Linked DNA regions of Homo sapiens. The protein of the gene in region 2 purifies or fractionates together with the protein of the main gene of each other region. This does not show direct contact. Each region holds a gene or a part of one and is shown on either strand. Other genes may lie near its edges.

Region 1 (3,828 bases), on a different chromosome or scaffold from region 2:
CTGCTATTGTGGTTCTTCAACTAAACCTTGTATATTTCAGAAAACATCTAAGATGTGTGTCAGAAACAAATATGTTTCTTAAGGATGTTAAGTATTACACAGTCCACTTGTGTAGGTAAAAGTAGAATGTTAAGTGGTAGAAAGCTGATTTGGTTAAGTTAATGGACTTCTGGCAATTTAGTTATTTCAGACTATGCAGTGACAACACAGACTAATACTACCAGTAGCCTGACTACTACTAGAAACTGCGGCCTGTGAGATCTGTTAAAAGTTAAGCCTAGAAACCAAAGTTCCTTCCCAATTAAAGAAGGAAAAACAAAACAAAACAAAACAAAACCACCACCTATTCAAAACAAAGCAGAGAATTTGTATAATATTTGATGGTACCTAAGGTGCCTAAGAAGCTTTTTTGAAGGTAGCTTTTAAGTTCTAGGAAGTCTTTTGTTGAATTTCCTTGTATTGGTTTAAAGCCCTAAATACCATAGATTTTATTTCCTCTCTTGGAAAAAAGATGGAAGTGACATGGCAGTATTTCCTGCTGTTCTCCAGTTACTTCACAATACCAAAATAAATTAAACGTACTGTTGCAAAACTCCTATGAGAAATCACTATTCAAAAAATGGTGCCAGCTTGCTGTTTAATGGTACAACTGAAGAGGAAGGAGCCTTCCCATTTCCATAAAAGAGGCAAAGGAGTCATACCCACATAGCACTACTGCCAGTCACTCTTGCCTTCACAGGGTCACCTCTCCTCACAGAAAGCAGACTGGACAAATATCAGGGCCCACCTCCCTCCAACATGGAAACAAGTCCCCCTAAGAAAGAGCTGAGACTAGTGTGCTAATACCTGTTGTATTTTGTGGAGATAAAGGTGCAGGAGAATAAACTCCTTTATAAAGAAGTGTCTTTCAGGTGTTCTGAAACCCTGCCTTGTTACTTACCTTTATTAAAAGAACCGAAATAATGCCTAACTCAGCCAAACAAGTCACTGCTGATTTTTGCAATGATTTTCCTCCCCTATATTAACACTGTAAGTCTCATATCTTTAAGTTGAAATTTTGGGATAATAAGCAAGATTAAAGAATATAGGTAAAACTGGGACTCTTAGAAGAAAGAAACAGCTTATGTATAGTCAAGTCTATTAATCCAAAAGCATCTTTCTGCGATTAGTTTAAGAAAGGATTGGTGGCTCACAAAACATGAAGTGAAAGAACTTTTTCCACATAAACTGCTTTCAAACCTTGTCATAGCAAGAAAAAAATTTATATCACATCCTAAACAAAGACACACGTGATCAAGAGTTTCACAAGTATACCCACCCATATAATGGGTGTAACACTCATTTTCTATTCAACACACTAAATTGACTTCATGACCCAGTGATGGGTCATGATTTGTAACATGAAAAGCATTGGTCTAGAGTAATCACAACACCCAAGATAATATCAAACCCTAACATTTTTTTTTTTTTTGAGTCTTACTATGTTTCCTGGTTTTGAACCCTAACAATTTTTAACATTTTATTTTGAAATAATTTTAGAGGAGTAGAAAGAATCCCTGTATACTCTGCCTACATTCCCCAAATGTGAACATTTTCATATTTGCTAATTATTTTTACCTATATGTACAGACATACTTTGAACCATAAGTTACAGACATGATGCCTCTTTATTCCTTAACACTTCTGTGTTTTTCCTTAAACATAAGGACATTTTCTTATATAATTACAGTACATTTCTCAAAATCAAGCAATTATCCCGATATAACACTATTCTTTAGTCCCAATAATATCCTCTAACACTGTTTTGTAAAACCTGGTAAGCAAAACAAACAGCCCCCTTCTCTAATGGCATCTGAAATGGAACAACTGCAATTCTCCATTTTTAATGGTTAGGTGAAGTAAATCTTTGCCCTGGAAATGTTTGCTTACAGCTTCCAGTCTGCTAAACATTTTATTTCCCTATCATTCTGAACATAGACCCTAAGTCTTGTACGTCCAAGCAGCACAGATACATGGCTAGCATTTTCTACGTTTAGAAAAGCAAAATTTACCTTCAAATCGTTCTGAAGGCGTTGCGTTGTCTGCTTGAGGTACCACTCCATGTTCTTTTTTGAACTTATCAAATGCCTTTTTATTTATGTCATCTTTTTGATGAGGGTCTGAGAAATGAAAAAAATTTAATACTTAACAGATCATCATTTAATCTTTCATTAAATTGCATAAGTTATTTTAAAAATAGGTGTTTAAAGTAACAAATGGACTTCTCAAAACTCACCAAGTTTTTGGAGACTCTTTGCTTTGCCAATAACATCTTTGGCAGTTCTTTTGACTCCAGAGGAAGAATGTATGTTCATGTAATTAGCAATAACTTCCCATCTGATAGGATATATTATACAATAATATGAATAGTAGTAAGGAAAAACAAAATGAAACGACAAAAACCATTAGATTTTTACTGCAGAAAGGTTATAGTATGTACAGAATGAGCTCAGATTGGTGGTCTAATTATGCTGCTACTATAAATTCCTGTTGCCTGGACTACGGTTTTTGCTTTTCATGTGTTTAAATCAACGATAATCTTGGTTTTAAGTCCATACATCTTACAGATTTGGTGTACAAATCAACATAAATAAAACCACTTATTTGTGTATACTGCCAGTTTAATACATTTCTTCAGAAGATCAATCATTCTGAAAACAGCCTCGGTTTCATCTATAGAATTAGGGACGCTGGATCTCTAGGGCTTTCTTGCAGTTAAACTCAAGCTCCAGCTTGAGGTGGGAAAAAACAAAGAGCAAGACTGTAAAAGAAAAACTACAGAAAACCTAATCCCTAGAACAAGCCATGACAGAGTAAGCCAACATAAATCAAGACTTGTCTCATGATCTTCAATTTCCTGAGAAACAAGTATTCTGTCATATGTATATGTGCATGTGTACTGATGCAATGGGTAAGACTGACAGCTTCAAAATGCACCTCACTTTTCACACTTTTCTGCTGTGGCACAGAATTTATCTCTGCAAGTTTCTGTGATAACAAGTGCTGCTATTTGGAGTCTGTCTACATTATCTCCAGGCTCCAGTGTGAGTTGAAGAAAAGTTTCATTAAAACCAGTACCTTGAATTTGTTCCAGCAGGGAACAGATTCACAGCTTTAATTAGTAATTGTAGATCATCTTCTGACCAATTTTTACTTCCATTTCCACCTCCACCAGTTGATTTCTCTGTGTTCTTAGATGCTTGTCGCATACGAGCCTCAGCTTCCTCTTTCTCTTTTCTGATTTGCTCATTTATTTCTTCTATCTGCACAAATATCATAAGTCAGGGACTTAGAAGTATACTGTATTGCTATTCTACACTCTCTTCCTGGCTAGGGCTTTGTGGTCCTCAACTCTCAATGTCATTCTCACTCTGACCCCATACTCCTCTCAGGCCAACCCAAAAAGAAGCACCAGCTTTTCACTCTGGCTTCCAGTCTGCATAGGTCTGCCTGAGGGACCAAGAACTGCCCACAGCCTGCCTGATTTTCCCAGTACTCATGTCATGTGACTTCCATTAGCCTTGGACACTAATTGACAAGTCTGTGGGTCACTGAGTTATTCATCCACAAGGCCATTTCAAACCTCTCTTCAAACTCATATTCACCCTTTCTGCAGACAATCTCATTTATTCTCTACCAAAAGGTGAAGGCATAGCAAAATGGCCTCTTTTATTTTGAAGCTCTACCATTTACATTGTTCCTTCTAGACTACCTTCAAACATGCACAAGTAAAAAAAGAACCTTTATTTGCCCTTGTTGCTTCTGTCAGCTGCTATCTTAAGAGTCAGC
Region 2 (3,828 bases):
TTTGAGTTATATCCTTTTCATGAGTTCGAGATTTTTTTATATTTGGTTTTAAACCATTTCAAATCTAAAGAAAAAAAGGTTGATATAGATAAACTACAGTATTTCTTACATTCTTTATTATTATATTATTTTAGAAATCACTCTGGCCTCAATGCAGTTCATTGTCACAGCTCTTAAAATAGAAAGAACTAAAATACTGAAAACATGCTGGAGAAAGGATGTTACTAGTTACTATAGGAAACAGTTTTCTGAATTTTTACCTATATGATTATTAAACAGAATTTGCTGAAACACAGTATCTGTTTCAGGTTGGATATGGCACATTTACACGACTTTTTAAATAAGATATTATTATTTATATATATGCTTACTTAAATGATCTTTTATTGAACTGTATGAACATAGAATATAACCAAATTAGTAATTATTATAAATGTATGGACTTTTATTTTTCTGAGAGTTATTCCTCATCACCTTTTTGTGTTACACAGGCTGAAGAAAATCTTGGTATGGTGATGATTTTTACTCTAGTGACAGCTGTGCAAGAAAAATTAAATGAAATAGTAGATCAGATAAAAACTAGAAGAGAAGAAGAAAAGAAACAAAAAGAAAAAGAAGCAGAAGAAGCTGAAAAGGTATATTTAAAAGCCTTGTTTTCTTTTATTATTTCTTAAATCAGTTTTCAGTTGCTTGGTTGGGTTTTTTTTTAATCAATAGCAGTATTTTTTTTGGAAATCACAAAAATAAATAAAAGTAAATTTTAGTAAAGTTTCACTAAAATTGTAGAAGTCCCTCATTTGGTTGGTGGCATAGCATGAGTAATGAATGATAATCAGTAAAAAGTTAGTAAAACTCATGCAGATAAGACCAAGAAGTATAAAGATTTCACCTATGATATAGAGCCAGGGGTGTCCAATTTTTTGGCTTCCCTGAGCCACATTGGAAGAAGAAGAATTGTCTTGGGCCATACATAAAATACACTAACAATAGCTGATGAGCTAAAAAAAATTTGCAGCAAAAAAACATGTTTTAAGACAGTTTACGAATTTGTGTTGGGCCACATTCAAAGCTGTCCTGGGCTGCATGTGGCTCTCAGGCTATGGGTTGGACAAGCTTGATATAGAGTTTAGAATTATAAATCCCCTATACTACAGTGAATTAAATAGTTACTACATGTAAAGAAAACCTCATATTTTGAAATGAAGTGATAAAGCAATGATTTAGTATTAGAAATTGATGTGTATTCAAAACATATCAGTTTTGACAGTGTATTAGTTCGTTTTCATGCTGTTGATAAAGACATACCCAAAACTGGGAACAAAAAGGGGTTTAATTGGACTTAGAGTTCCACATAGCTGGGAAGGCCTCAGAATCATGGTGGGAGGTGAAAGGCACTTCTTACATGGCAGCGGCAAGAGAAAAATGAGGAAGAAGCAAAAGCAGAAACCCCTGATAAACCCATCAGATCTTGTGAGATTTATTCACTATCATGAGAATAGCATGGGAAAGACAGGCCACCATGATTCAGTTACCTCCCCCTGGGTCCCTCCTACAGCACATGGGAATTCTGGGAGATACAATTCAAGTTGAGATTTGGGTGGGGACACAGCCAAACCATATCAGACAGCAACAACTTTCTTCTTAACAATGAATAGCTATGGTGGTAAATACAGTGAATACAATGCATATTATCTTTGTTTCTTGTAATAAGAATAAAAAATGGACTACTCCAAAGTATGTTGCCAAAACCAGTGAGAGTAGCCAGTGCAGGCAGAAATCAGTTTAAATATTTCAAAAATTCAAACATTAATTTTTCTGTTTTTCTTATAAGGGGTTATATTGATATGTTTAAAAGATACTGTTAGGATTTATTAAACTGCTGTTTCATTAATCTGGTGACTTTTTTTTTTTATTTCCTAAGCAATTATTCCATGGTACTCCAGTTACAATTGAGAATTTCTTAAATTGGAAAGCCAAGTTTGATGCAGAACTCTTGGAAATTAAAAAGAAAAGGATGAAAGAAGAAGAACAAGCAGGAAAAAATAAATTAAGTGGTATGATTCCCCTGCCATTCCTGTTCTTCCTAAACCCTCCTGTATCATTTTTTATATAGCAAGAGGATCATTTGGTCAGATTTCTGTAAGAAAATAATATACATAGGCATCTAGGACAAAAAGAGAAAACATATCTACCAGATGATGTTTCTCCACTCATAATTTGTAATTAATTTTTATGGCTTATCTTTGATATAAGTATTATAATTACTAGATCCTGTGATAGAAGGACATTCAGGATCATGTCTTAGAAGTAGTAGAGTCAAACCCATTTGTTTTTCTAGTACCCCAAGGCAGACTGGGTTTTCACTTGTTCCATTTTAATGCAGATACATTTCATATGCCACTTAGCTACTGAATAAATTCAGAAATTTATTGAAATTCACAGAAAAAGAGGTTTTCAAATTTGCTTTCTAAGTATTGTAGTGAAAATGGAGAAAAACTATGCCATTTGAATTAAACATACTTTTTTTTTTTTTTTAGGGAAACAACTATTTGAAACAGATCATAATCTTGACACATCTGATATCCAGTTCTTGGAGGATGGTAAGATAATAGTAGAATTCCACATGTGGGACAGGCACAGTAGCTCAAACCTGTAATCCCAGCATTTTGGAAAGCCAAGGCAGGAGGATTGCTTGAGCCCAGGAGTTTGAGACCAGACTGGGCAACATAGTGAGACCCTGACTCTATTAAAAAAAAAAAAAAGAATTCCACATGTATATAATGTAGTCTCTTTAATTTTGAACCATGAAAATCAAACTGAACTTTATTTATTGTACATTTTTCCTCCCAAGGCTGTTAAAAAATACATTTTGGAGAATAAATTCTAGTGGTTGACTAATTTATACATTTGAAATTAATGTTGTAATTCTATAGCAACATATATTTTAAATTTTTTGGTAACTTAAGCAATATCAAAGATAGAAGTAGACAATGATGATCACACCAGCCTCTCACAACTAGTAAACCAGGTTATTGTGACTCAGGTGACCTGTTTTCTTCAAATTTCTAGTATCATAAATCTGTGAAAACTATTCTATGGACTGTCATGGAGCTTGTAAAAACCTCATGTTTAACTCCTAGCATCCCCTCTCACCAGACTTTCATATGACTCTTGCTGTATTTGGAGCATCTAGTCCCTTGTGCTTTTCTTCTACCACCTATACTCTTCCATCTATCCATCATCGATTCATTCAGAAATATTGATTGCACTGTCCTGGCCACTGAGGATACAGAAGAGTACAGTATGGGCCAGTTCTCTCCCCTCGGGAGCTTATGGCCTACATGTGTTTTCTTAAACTGGGCTCCATACTCAGTCACACCTTTGATAGCACTCTAGAGTTCCGTACTTCATTAACCTTTTGTTGTATCTGTCTTGCCAGTTGGGAATCCTTTAGCTTCTGGCCTTTCAGCCTTGTTCTGGATTACCTGCTGAAGAAGGTTAAGAAGCAGTATTGATATAGCTTACTGCTAAATGCTTTCTAATCTAAGCTAGGCCTTTACTGATAGGCAACATTTTAAAGTTTTTGATACCTTTTCCTTTTCTGATTTCAATGTTTTGTCATTTTCACCTGGATTTTTGTGGTAGTTTCTTAAATTATTTCCCTAAACCTCTTCCTCCTCCTAGTGCCATTACCTATTCTATAGTCACTCCCTATGAGATGGTATTCCTAAAACCCATATTTAATCATACAATTTCTCTCCTTAAAATCCTTTGATGGTTTCCACTGCTTATAGGGAGAGAATGACCTACACAATCTTTCTCAAATCT

Evidence for each region.
Region 1: the proteins of RWDD1 (region 2) and DNAJC2 purify together in Homo sapiens (affinity purification with mass spectrometry; one large-scale study listed by BioGRID). This does not show direct contact.

Annotation. Positions count from the first base shown.
Region 1 is NC_000007.14:103,313,713-103,317,540, forward strand, and holds part of DNAJC2 (dnaJ homolog subfamily C member 2), read right to left. Parts: intron 3,303-3,828; coding exon 3,118-3,302; intron 2,377-3,117; coding exon 2,276-2,376; intron 2,160-2,275; coding exon 2,052-2,159; intron 975-2,051; exon of another isoform or gene 1-974. UniProt on the Homo sapiens protein: Acts both as a chaperone in the cytosol and as a chromatin regulator in the nucleus.
Region 2 is NC_000006.12:116,588,351-116,592,178, forward strand, and holds part of RWDD1 (RWD domain-containing protein 1), read left to right. Parts: intron 1-491; coding exon 492-635; intron 636-1,921; coding exon 1,922-2,054; intron 2,055-2,537; coding exon 2,538-2,600; intron 2,601-3,828. UniProt on the Homo sapiens protein: Protects DRG2 from proteolytic degradation.